Homo sapiens: one gene and its partners. The protein of the gene in region 2 purifies or fractionates together with the protein of the main gene of each other region. This does not show direct contact. Each region holds a gene or a part of one and is shown on either strand. Other genes may lie near its edges.

Region 1 (3,508 bases), on a different chromosome or scaffold from region 2:
ACTCACTTTAGATCTAAAGACACAAAGAAGTTGAAAATGAAAGGATGTAAAAAAAACCCATACAAATAGTAAACAAAAGAGAGATGAGGTAACTATACTAATATCAGACAAAATAGACTATAAGTCAAAAACGATTAGAAGAGATTAAAAAGTACATTATGTATTAATAAAAGGATAAATTCATCAATAATATGTAACAGTTATAAACATATATGCACCAAATATCAGAGCTTCAAAATATATGAAGCAAACACTGGCAGAATTGAAGGGAGAAATAGATATCTCTATAATAATATTTGGAGACTTCAAAACACCACTTTCAGTAAGAGACAGAACCACTAGACAGAAGATAAATGAGGAAACAGGACTTCAACAACACCGTAAGCCAATTATACCTGGCAGACATACACAGAACACTCCATACCACAATAAAGAAGAGATATTTTTATCAAGTGCACATGAAACATTCCCCAAGATAGGCCACAAAACAAGTTTGTAGCCACAAAATAAGCTTTAATATATTCAAAAAGGTTGAAATCATATAAAAAATATTTTCTGATCACATAGAATGAAACCAGAAATCAATAATAGAAAACTAAAAAAACTCACAAATATGTGAAAATTAAACAGCCAATGGGGCCAGGCATGGTGGCTCACACCTGTAATCACAGCACTTTGGGAAGCTAAGGCAGGCAGATCACTTGAGGCCAGAAGTTTGAGACCAGCCTGGCCAACATGGCAAAACCCCATCTCTACTAAAAATACAAAACTTAGCCGGGCATGTTGGCGCACGCTTGTAATCCCAGCTACCTGGGAGGCTGAGGCACGAGAAATCCTTGAACCTGGGAGGTGGAGGTTGTAGTGAGCTGAATTTGTGCCACTGCACTCCAGCATGGGTGACAGAGCAAGACTCTGTCTCAAACAAACAAACAAAAAACCAATGGGTCAAAAGAGAAATCATGAGGTAAATTAGGAGGTAACATGAGAAAGGCAGAAACACACACACACACACACACACACGCACACACACACGCGCGTGCACACACACACACACACCTTACACCGCGCTAAAACCTAAGGGATGCAGCAAAAACAATGCTGAGAGGGAAAATTATAGTTGCAAATGCATATATTAAAAAAATCTTAAATCAGTAACCTAACATTACACCTTAAGGAATGAGAAAAGGAAAAAGTAAAGACCAGAGAGCTTGAAGAGCAAACTAAACCCAAAGCTCACAGAAGGAAGGATATAATCAAGATTAGAGTGAAGACAAATGAAATAGAGAATCGAAAAACAGTGGAGAAAAATCAAGAAAACCAAAGTTGATTCTTTGATAACATCAATAAAACTGACAAAACTAGCTAGACTGACAAAGAAAAAGAAGACTCAAATTACTAGTATCAGGAATAAAAGTAGGACATTACCATGAACTTTACAGAAATAAAAAGGAATATAAGAGAATACTATGAACATTTGTATACCAATAAATTGGATAACGTAAATAAAATGAAAACATTCCTAAAAACACAATCTACCAAAACGGAACTGTGAAGAAATAGAAAATCTGACCAATAACTAGTAAGATTAAATCAGTAATCAAAAATGTCCCAAGAAAGAAAAGCTCAGGACCAGATAGCTTTGCTGGTTAATTCTACCATATATTTAAAGAAGAACTAATATAGCTTTGCTGGTTAATTCTACCATACATTTAAAGAAGAACTAATACCAATCCTTCTCAAACTTACAAAAAAAACTGAAGACGAGAGAACACTTCATAACTAATTCTATGAGGTCAGCTTTACCCTGATACCAAAATCAGACAAAGTCACTTCAAGAAAAGAAAACCACTTTGGGAGACAGAGGCAGAAGAGTCACTTGATGCCAGGAATTCAAGACCACACTTGGGCAATACAGCAAGACCTTGTCTCTGTGAAAAAAGAAAAATGGAAAAGAACACTACAGACCAATACTCTTTATGAATATTGATGGAAAAATTAATAAAATCCAGCAAATCAAATTCAGCAGCATATTAAAAGAAGTATACATTGATTTATTCCTGGAATACAAGGATGGTTTAACATGTACAAATCAAAAATCAATCAATGAAATATACCACATTAATAGAATGAAGGAAAAAATACATGGCCATTTCAGTTGACATAGAAAAAGCATTTGATAAATGTCATCATTCTTTCTTGATATAAATATTCAATTAATTAGGTCTAGAAGATGCTATGGTTTGAATGTGTCAACAAGCATGTATTGGAAACCTAATCCTCAAAGTAACAGTACTGAGAGATAGAACCTAATGGGAGGTATGTAGGTCATGAGGGCTCTACTGTCTTGAAGGGATTAATGCCAATTATAAAAGGGCTTGAAGTTTCAAATTTGTTTTCTTCCTCTCTTGCTCCCTCTCATTCTCTCTAGCCCTTCTGCCTTCCACCATGGGATAACACAGCAAGAAGACCCTCACCAGATGCTAGCTCCCTGATCTTGGACTTCCAAAACTCTAGAAGCATGAGCCTATAAATTTCTGCTCATTATAAATTCCCCAGTTTCAAGTGTTCTGTTATAGCAGCACAAAATGGACTAATACAGAAGGAAATTTCATCAACATGATAAAGGCCATAGAGTTGGCACTCTATCTCTGCAGTTTCCATATCCAGGGATTAAATCAACAGCAGATATAAAATATTTGGGGAAAAGCAATACAAAATAACAATACAACCAAAAAAATACAAGTTTTAAAAATACAGTACAACAACGATTTACATAGCATTTACATTGTGTTAGGTATTATAAGTAACCTAGAGATAATTTAAAATATATGGAAGGATGTGTATAGGTGCAAATATTATAGCACTTTATATAAGGGATTTGAACATCCTCAGATTATTTTGAGGGGATTCCTGGAACCATCCCACCTCATATATTGAAGGACATTTTTATATGAAAAGCCCACAGCTAACATCATACCTTAACGGTGAAAGACCGAAAGCTTCTTAAGATCAGGAACAAGATAAAGATGTCTGCTCTTACCACTTCTATTCAACATAGTACTAGCAGTCCTAACTAGAGCAATTAGGCAAAAAAAGGAAAAGGGAATAAAAGGCATCCAAATTGTAAAGGAAGAAGTAAAATTTTCTCTGTTCACAGATGACATGATTTTATATATAGAAAACCCTAAAATCTTTTTCTTTAAAGTTAGAGCTAATTAAAAGCATGCAGCAAGGTTGCAAGATATAAAATCAACACACAAAAATATTTCATCTCTACATACTAACAATGAACAATCCAAAAATTAAGAAAACAACTCAATTTATAATAGCATTGAAAAGAATAAAATACTTAGGAAAAAATTTAATCAAGAAGGCAAAAATCTTGTACACTGAAAGCCACAAAACATTGCTGCAAGCACTACCCAGAGCAATCTACAGATTCGATGCAATCCCTATCAAAATCTTAAGTGTTTTTTGCAGAAATAGAAAAACCCACCCCAAAACTCAT
Region 2 (4,158 bases):
CCGGGTGCTCACCTCCCGCTGCCGCAGGCCCGCGCGTTCCAGGTCCTGCTCGCGGCTCTGCAGCTCCAGCTCCAGACGGCTTCTCCGCTCCCCGCGGGCGAAGTTCTGGGACGCACGGAGGACCACTGAGCCTCCGCCGGCCGCTCGGCCATGCAAAAGAGGTACACGGAGGGCCAGGGGCTGGGAGTGGGCCCGGGCGGAGCGGGGTCGGGTGGAGAAGACCGGACGGGGGTGATACGTGAGGCCCAGTGGGATCTCCTCGGGCTGAGGGCAGCCTGGACCCGCGGAGGTGGGGCCGTCGGGGAGGGATTAATTCAGAGAAGGCGGAGCCAGGGAGGCCAGCGAGGTGGGATTGGGCCTGGCGGGAGGGGCGGGGCCCGAGGCCCACCTGACTCGGCGGGCGCCGGCTCTGCTCCCGAAGCTGCTCCGTCTCCTCGTACAGAGCGCGCACCTCCCTCTCGTGCTCGCTCTCGCGCCTTCGGGGGACCGGGCGACCCCGGATGAGAACTTGCCAGCGCTACAGCCCCCTGGCACCGCCTCTGCTGCTGCCCTGAGGCCCTCCATTGGCCCCCATACCCCACCCCGGCCCTCACCTCCGCAGCGCCTGCTCCAGGCCGTCGCGCTCCCGGGCCGCCTCCTCCAGGCAGGCCGACGCGCGTATCAGAACATCCTCGAAAGAGCCCAGCAGCTCGGGGCGCTCGCGCTGCAGCCTGGCCCAGAGCGTCCTCACAGCCCGCTGCCTGGAGGGCGGGCGGGAACTGAGGCTGGAGCTGGCAGAAGCGGGAAGCAGGCTTCCCTCCGCCAGCAGCAAACCCTTAGGAGACTTCTTCGCCCCTGGGCAGGACAGGAGCACTTGCTGCGTGCAGGGCATCCCTCCCGTGAGCGCTTTCGCCCCTGCCCGGCGTGCGTGGTCGGTGAGGTGTGTGTACCCTGGGCAGTGCCGGTATGTGGCCCCGCGCCCGGCGCTGCCCCTCCTCCCTGCAGCCCTGGCTGCTGCCTCATGAAATGCAAATTCTGCGGGAAATCATGCCGGGTCCCTCCCAGGGAATCGCAGCTGACGCTAGGCTGGGCCTGACCCGGCCTAGAGACCCTGTGCAGAACCAGCACTCGGGTGACAAGGGCAGACAGCATGCAGGCAGAGAAACAGCAGAGCGGGCAGTGGGAGCGGGGCCAGCGCCGACTCACTTGCCCAGGACCGGGGCCACCCCCAGCTGCTCCAGCACAGTGTGGAATCGCTCCTCCTCTTCCTCCTCCTCATCCAGAGAGCCCGCCGTGCCCTGCACGTCGAGCCCGCCCGACTCAAAGGTCTCCTCGGGAGTCCTGCAGGGGTTCGCTCCCTGGGCTGACGCCACCCCCACAAACATCCCTGCGGGCATGGAGCGAGCGATTACCAGGGCTGTGGGTCGCCACCGTGGCTGTGTCCCCGTTCACCCTCCCAACGAGTATCCTGCCCTCTCTCAGGGCCCAGTTTCCTGTTTTCCTTCCTTATTCTGGTCCTATTGGCCTGGAAACAAGAGGTGACAGGCCAGCTCCCAGCCCTACCGGAGCTTAGCACAGGAGAGGAGCTGGGGGCCAGGAAGGTCAGCTCCACACACTCCACCGCAGCTAGGAGCCCCCAGGCGCGAGTGCGTGCAGACAAAGCACGGGCCCTGGAGGGAGGAGGACGAGAGGCACCGGCAGCCCTCAGGGCGCCACAAGTGCCAGGCCTCCTGATCAGGCCTCCAGCTCTGGGCAGTGGGGGATAGGCAGGCCACAGGCTCACCCAGGCCCAGGCAGAACTCCCTGGCGGTGAGGAAGCCAGTGTGAGCCCGGTCCAGACTTTCAAACACAGCCTCCAGCTGCTCTGGCGTGAGGGGCAGGTCGCTCTGGAGACCCTGGTCGGGGAAGGAGAGCAGAGATGAGCCGCTGCGGTCAACCCAGGGCCGAAGCAGTCTCTTGGGGTGGGGGACTCACCTGCAGGTCGTGCTTGGTGATGAAGCCCTTAGCCTCCTTGTCACACAGCAGAAACAGCTCCTCAGCCTGCTCCAGTATTGCAGCCCGCGGCCCTGCAGAGCCCCCCTCGAGTTCCCCCTCCTCCTCCTGGGCCTCATCAGCCCCAGGCTTTCCAGGGCTGGCCATGAGAGCAGGGGGCCTCAGCCTGGCCTTCAGGTGCTGTGAAGCCAAGGGAGGGTCAGAAGAAATTCAGGAGGGGAGCGGATGGGGTGCAAGTGTGTCTGAAGGCTCAGCCGAGGGCCCTCCCTGCAGCAGGTGGGAAGGTGGGCGGAAGGCAAGGTGGGACCAGGGGGCTGGGGGTGGAAAATGCTGCAGGCTTGGGGTGTCACTGGGGTGGTTGATGTAGGCTCAGGGCCTGTGGGTACTGCCCCAGTGGGTCTGGCATCTCAGGAGGCTGGAACCCAGGAGGGGCTGCCAACTTCAGGAGAGGAGGAGCTGGAGGTGATGGCAATCTCAGGGGCCAGTGGAGAAGACCTGGTGATAAGGAAGGTGGGGTCCTGAAAGCTGAGAGGAGCAGGCTTGGGGTCAGTGAGGGAGGAGCCCCTCACACTCTGCAACTGGAGATCTGATCCCAAGTGAGGGCTCAGCCAGTCCTGACCAAGTCCTTAGCCCCTGGCCTGGGCCTGTGTGGCCCAGCCTCATGACAGCTGGCAGGCAGGGCAGACTTCTCCCTCCTGCCCACCGGCCCCTCCCTCCCCACAACTGAGCCCACAGAGTGCAGGGGCAAGGTCCCAGCCTGCAGAGCCCTTCGCCTCTGACGCCCCACTCAGGAACACTTCCAGATTCGAGACCTAACACCCTTGCCCCACAACACTGAGGCCCTTCCCCGTTTCAGAACTCCCTGGGGCCTCCCTTCCCACCTCCTTGCAGGGACGCCCCGCCCCCTAACCAGAGCCACCTGTCCTTCACACAATGTCCTGATCCCGGATTTCCCAAAGCTGCTCCCCACCAACACCCGCCTTCCCCCACCGGGGAGCTGGGATCCTCTCCCCTCACTCTCCACCCAGCGTCCTTCCATGTTCCTTAGCCCGGGCGACCTCCAAAGAGGGCAAGTCTGGGCGGGTGAGAGAAGGGGACACGAGAGGCCAGGGCCATTGCCTCCAGGCCACGTTGTTGTCTCGCCCGCCCTCCGGCTTGCCGGCTAGACCTGAGGTCCACCCCAGCCGGAAGCCGCGCGGCAGCAGGGCCCCAGGGAGGTGGGAGGATGGGCTGGTGGGGTGGGGCGGCCAGCCTCCTGTGCTCCCCGAAACTCTGGGGGACAACCCCGCCCTTACCCCTGCCGCCTTGCGCCCCGAGGGGGTAACCGGAGTTCCCGACCGAGACGCTCAGGTTTGGCGCGGGCCACGGCGGCCCGGAGGGGGTGCCGGGCGGGCGGCAGTGGAGGGGCCTCAGCGGCGGGACCAGCGGTCGCCTACCCGCGAGTTGCGCCGCCGCACCTGCCGCGCGCCCGGGCCGCTCCTCCCGGAAACACTGGGCGCGCCCCGCCCCAGCTGGGACCCGGACGGGACGTAGAGGGCACTGGGCCCCGAGCGACCCCTGCCGCTTCGCAGGCACCGAGACCCCCGCTTGGGCCGGCCCCGGGAGGAGCCACTCTGCGCCGCTGTCGCCTGTCCCCGCCTCTCTGCGCTGCCCCGGCGGCCCGATCCCTGGAGGCTCGAGCGAGCAGTGAAGCAACGATATGCCCCAGAGACCCAGGGACCCCCCGGAGCAGGGACAAGGCTGCGGGGGGCGGGCGCAGACACCAGCGCCTGGGAGGGGCCCCTCCTGTCCGGGGGGAGCCCGACTTAAGGCGCCAAAAAGTGTGTGTAGGAAAAAGCCGGGCAGGAAACAGACCAAATACTTTCAGCGGTTATCTCTAGGGGTGGGGAGCCTTTACTTTCTTCTCTATACTTTCCCGGTTTTTAAACAATAAACATGTAGGCCGGGCGCCTGTAATCCCAGCACTTTGGGGGGCTGAGACAGGGGCAGATCACCTGAGGTCAGGAGTTCGAGACCAGCCTGCCCAACATGGCGAAACCCCGTCTCTACTAAAAATACAAAAAATTAGCCAGGTGTGGTGGTGGGCGCCTGTAATCCCAGCACTTTGGGAGGCTGAGCCAGGAGAATCACTTGAACTCGGGAGGCAGAGTTTGCAGTGAGCCGAGATTGTGCCATTGCACTGGGCAA
Region 3 (3,508 bases), on a different chromosome or scaffold from region 2:
TTGGCTAATAAATTTCCATAGTGAAGTTAGGTATATAGAAAGTACCAAGTTTCTTTAACTAGAGTTTTCTAGTGTAAAGGGATCTTGCATTTTATTTTATTAACGTTCTGTTTTCATGTGGGTGGTACGTGTCTTTGTTTGCATGTGTGTCAGGAATATGCCACCAAAACAAGAATTGGGATCCGGCGTGGGAGAACTGGCCAAGAACTCAAAGAGGCAGCATTGGAACCATCGATGGAAAAAATATTTAAAAGTAGGTGGCTATCTTTAGTTTTTAACCTAGAATCTATGGATATGTTTTAAGAGGTCCATGAACAACTTCCTAAAAATATATGTGTATTTGTGCATTTTCTGGGAAGACCACATTATTATTCTGAGATCTGACGACCCAGAAAAGATTGGTACTTTGCACTGGATTCAGTGGTTATCAATCATATTTCTTCCAGTGGAAATTTTACTTTCCTTTTTTTTAAAGAAAAGGATTATTAATATGCCATGGTCCAAAAGGTATACTCTGTTGAGAAAGTTCATTTTAAGTGTGTAGAATCCTCATTCAAGCATATAATATTTGTGTATGTTTCAGATTAAGAATAAATCACCAACACATAGATGTTAATAAAAGCCTAGCTGTCCAAGAAGAATCCTTTAACTCACTGCTCACATAGGGCCTCAGGAGGGCAGTACTTTAATATATTGCCAGTTTGGTTCAGTTTGGATATCAACTTTGCAAGTTCAGAAACTAGATTGTTAATCATCCTAAAGCTATTCAAAGAATACCACTGCTCCTTAATAATCTTGCAAAATGTCTTTACAGTGGGAGAGAGCCCTAATCAGTATCCTTCAGGTCATTTCTTTCTGATTTGACCCTAGAGACCAAATCATGCAAATTATGTAGTGACAGCCTAGTAATATTCTTAGTAAACGAATTAGACTAAAAGAATAAGATGCCCTTTATGAATACCTCTATTGAGTTAGAGTTGATTAGTTGCCTCTCAGTACCCTAAAACGGGAGCCTCCTCTCACTTGATTCTGCTGCATAAACACTGATTATATTTTCTCTTTTTTCTTGATTTCCACGTAAAGCATCATTTGTGTTAATACCATGCAGTATGGTATGACTGTTAACATTTCCTTCTCATTTTTTACTTTCCATGAATGTCATGTGAATATACTTCAACCTCTTATTAGTAAAATAATAGGTATCACAGAAGTAGCTCCACGTCTACAGGTATACTGCTCCCTCAAATATTGTTGGAGGGAGGTTGAAGATTCACCAAGCCTGATCCTTTCTTTTTTGTACTGATTTTTACACCTTTGTTTCAGGAGTGTTTTTTTCTACTGGTTACCTAACATTGAGGCAATTTCTGTACCCCATATGCACTGATTATGGCTTCTATTAAATATGGTACATGATTTGATTCCCTTGATAAATATTTTAAAGGCTTTGTCCAGATGTGCCAGTACTAACCTGCATTTCCTTCTGTGTTCTGCAGTTGATCAGATGGGAAGATGGTTTGTTGCTGGAGGGGCTGCTGTTGGTCTTGGAGCATTGTGCTACTATGGCTTGGGACTGTCTAATGAGATTGGAGCTATTGAAAAGGCTGTGTAAGTAAATTGTTTTAAGTAAACTGTTCCTAAACAACTCCAGCCTTAAAACAAAAATTCAAATTTTCTTCTCATTCCTATCTTTAGTCACTTTGGAATGTTTTGTGTCTAGTCTTTGTGTATACACACAAATAGAGAATCTCTTTTTGCTTCTTTGACATTTATTTATTCAAATCTAAATAAAAATCTTTTAGCAAGGTTATATGTGTTTAAGCAAAGAGAAAATATGAAATATGTTTTTTGTTTGTTTGTTTGTTTGTTTTTTTGGAGAGAGAGTCTTGCTCTATCTCCCAGGCTGGGGTGCAGTGGCGCGATCTTGGCTCACTGCAACCTCCGCCTCCTGGGTTCAGGCAATTCTCCTGCCTCAGGCTCCTGTAGGTGGGATTACAGGCACATGCCACCATGCCCGGCTATTTTTTGTATTTTTAGTAGAGACGGGGTTTCACCATTTTGGCCAGGCTGGTCTCGATCTCCTGACCTCAGGTGATCCACCCACCTCAGCCTCCCAAAGTGCTGGGATTACAGGCATGAGCCACCGCACCCAGCCAAAAATATGTTGTTTTTTATATGTGCTTGTATGTTTTATCTCATTTAGTCCTTACAGTAACTCCCAAGTATGCATAATTATCATAATTATTTCCATGATAAATGAAGTGAATAAGATTTAAAGTGTAAAATGATTTATCCCGAGGTCGCCCAGCTAGTGTGTGACTCAACCAGAAATCAAATCTGTAATTTCATAGATTAATCATGTCATGTTTCTTACAGAATTTGGCCTCAGTATGTCAAGGATAGAATTCATTCCACCTATATGTACTTAGCAGGGAGTATTGGTTTAACAGCTTTGTCTGCCATAGCAATCAGCAGAACGCCTGTTCTCATGAACTTCATGATGAGAGGCTCTTGGGTGGTAAGTCAGCTGTTTTTGTTTTCCTTTTTCATCTAAAGATCAAAAGATTAGATAAAATATATTGGAGGGAAGGGTTATTAAATGGAAAGAATACTGTATTGAACAAGTTTTTGTTCAAATAATGTATGAATTACAGGTTGAGCATCCCTAATTTAAAATCCAGAAATGCTCCAAAATCCAAAACATTTGTAGTGTCAACATGATGCTCAAAGAAAATTGTAGCATTTCACATGTTGGGTTTTTGAATTAGGGATCCTGAACCCTAACAACAATGAAGTGTAATGATAAATAGTCCGAAATCTGAAGTCTGAAACACTTCTGGTCCCAGACATTTCTGATGAGAGTTACTCAACCTGTATTAGTGCAGCTGAGATAAAAGTAGGAAGTTCATTCTAGGTAGGTCAGCTATTATTCTTTATTAAACATGTATTCGAATAATACCAGAGGAGTTAGAAATCAAACTTACAGAGACAACATTTTTGTCTAGCAGCAGATATCAGACAGCCTCTAATTTGTAGCAGTTTACTAAAAAAATAAAGCAAATGCAAAATCATCTTAGAAGTCAGAGGGAAATGCCTATGCAGTTAAGAGCAGAATAGTGCTGCTACTATTATTCCTAAGATTCTTGACCTTATAGAAGATTTTATATTTAATCGGTTTCTCTGGAGCCCTTGTTATTTTGCTAGATAAGAGAATTTGAATATGTGTCCCCTATTCTCCTGCTATTTGGTAGAAGAGATGAACTGGAATAAGTGGCACAGATACGCAATAAGAAAGTGCAAAGTCAGTTGAGAGTTTCTGTCTTGGACTGTTAGGCAAGTTCCGTGAAGGAGACATTTATTTCATCAGGGTTGTTGAAGGCTAACATGTCTCATTTATTTTAGAAGTAGACAAGAGGGCCAGGTGCAGTGGCTCACACCTGTAATCTCAGCGTTTTAGGAGGCTGAGGCAGGAAGATTGCTTGAGCCCAGGAATTTGAGACCAACCTGAGCA

Evidence for each region.
Region 1: the proteins of CRACR2B (region 2) and CARD19 purify together in Homo sapiens (affinity purification with mass spectrometry; 3 studies listed by BioGRID and IntAct, with this or other methods). This does not show direct contact.
Region 3: the proteins of CRACR2B (region 2) and GHITM purify together in Homo sapiens (affinity purification with mass spectrometry, with the first as the bait; one large-scale study listed by BioGRID). This does not show direct contact.

Annotation. Positions count from the first base shown.
Region 1 is NC_000009.12:93,102,710-93,106,217, reverse strand, and holds part of CARD19 (caspase recruitment domain-containing protein 19), read right to left. Parts: intron 1-3,508. UniProt on the Homo sapiens protein: Plays a role in inhibiting the effects of BCL10-induced activation of NF-kappa-B. May inhibit the phosphorylation of BCL10 in a CARD-dependent manner.
Region 2 is NC_000011.10:826,568-830,725, reverse strand, and holds the start of CRACR2B (EF-hand calcium-binding domain-containing protein 4A), read right to left. Parts: upstream 2,808-4,158; 5' UTR 2,119-2,807; coding exon 1,954-2,118; intron 1,875-1,953; coding exon 1,763-1,874; coding exon of another isoform or gene 1,543-1,762; intron 1,367-1,542; coding exon 1,186-1,366; intron 759-1,185; coding exon of another isoform or gene 741-758; coding exon 594-740; intron 477-593; coding exon 389-476; coding exon of another isoform or gene 106-388; coding exon 13-105; intron 1-12. UniProt on the Homo sapiens protein: Plays a role in store-operated Ca(2+) entry (SOCE).
Region 3 is NC_000010.11:84,142,502-84,146,009, forward strand, and holds part of GHITM (growth hormone-inducible transmembrane protein), read left to right. Parts: intron 1-153; coding exon 154-253; intron 254-1,493; coding exon 1,494-1,605; intron 1,606-2,373; coding exon 2,374-2,515; intron 2,516-3,508. UniProt on the Homo sapiens protein: Plays an important role in maintenance of mitochondrial morphology and in mediating either calcium or potassium/proton antiport. Mediates proton-dependent calcium efflux from mitochondrion.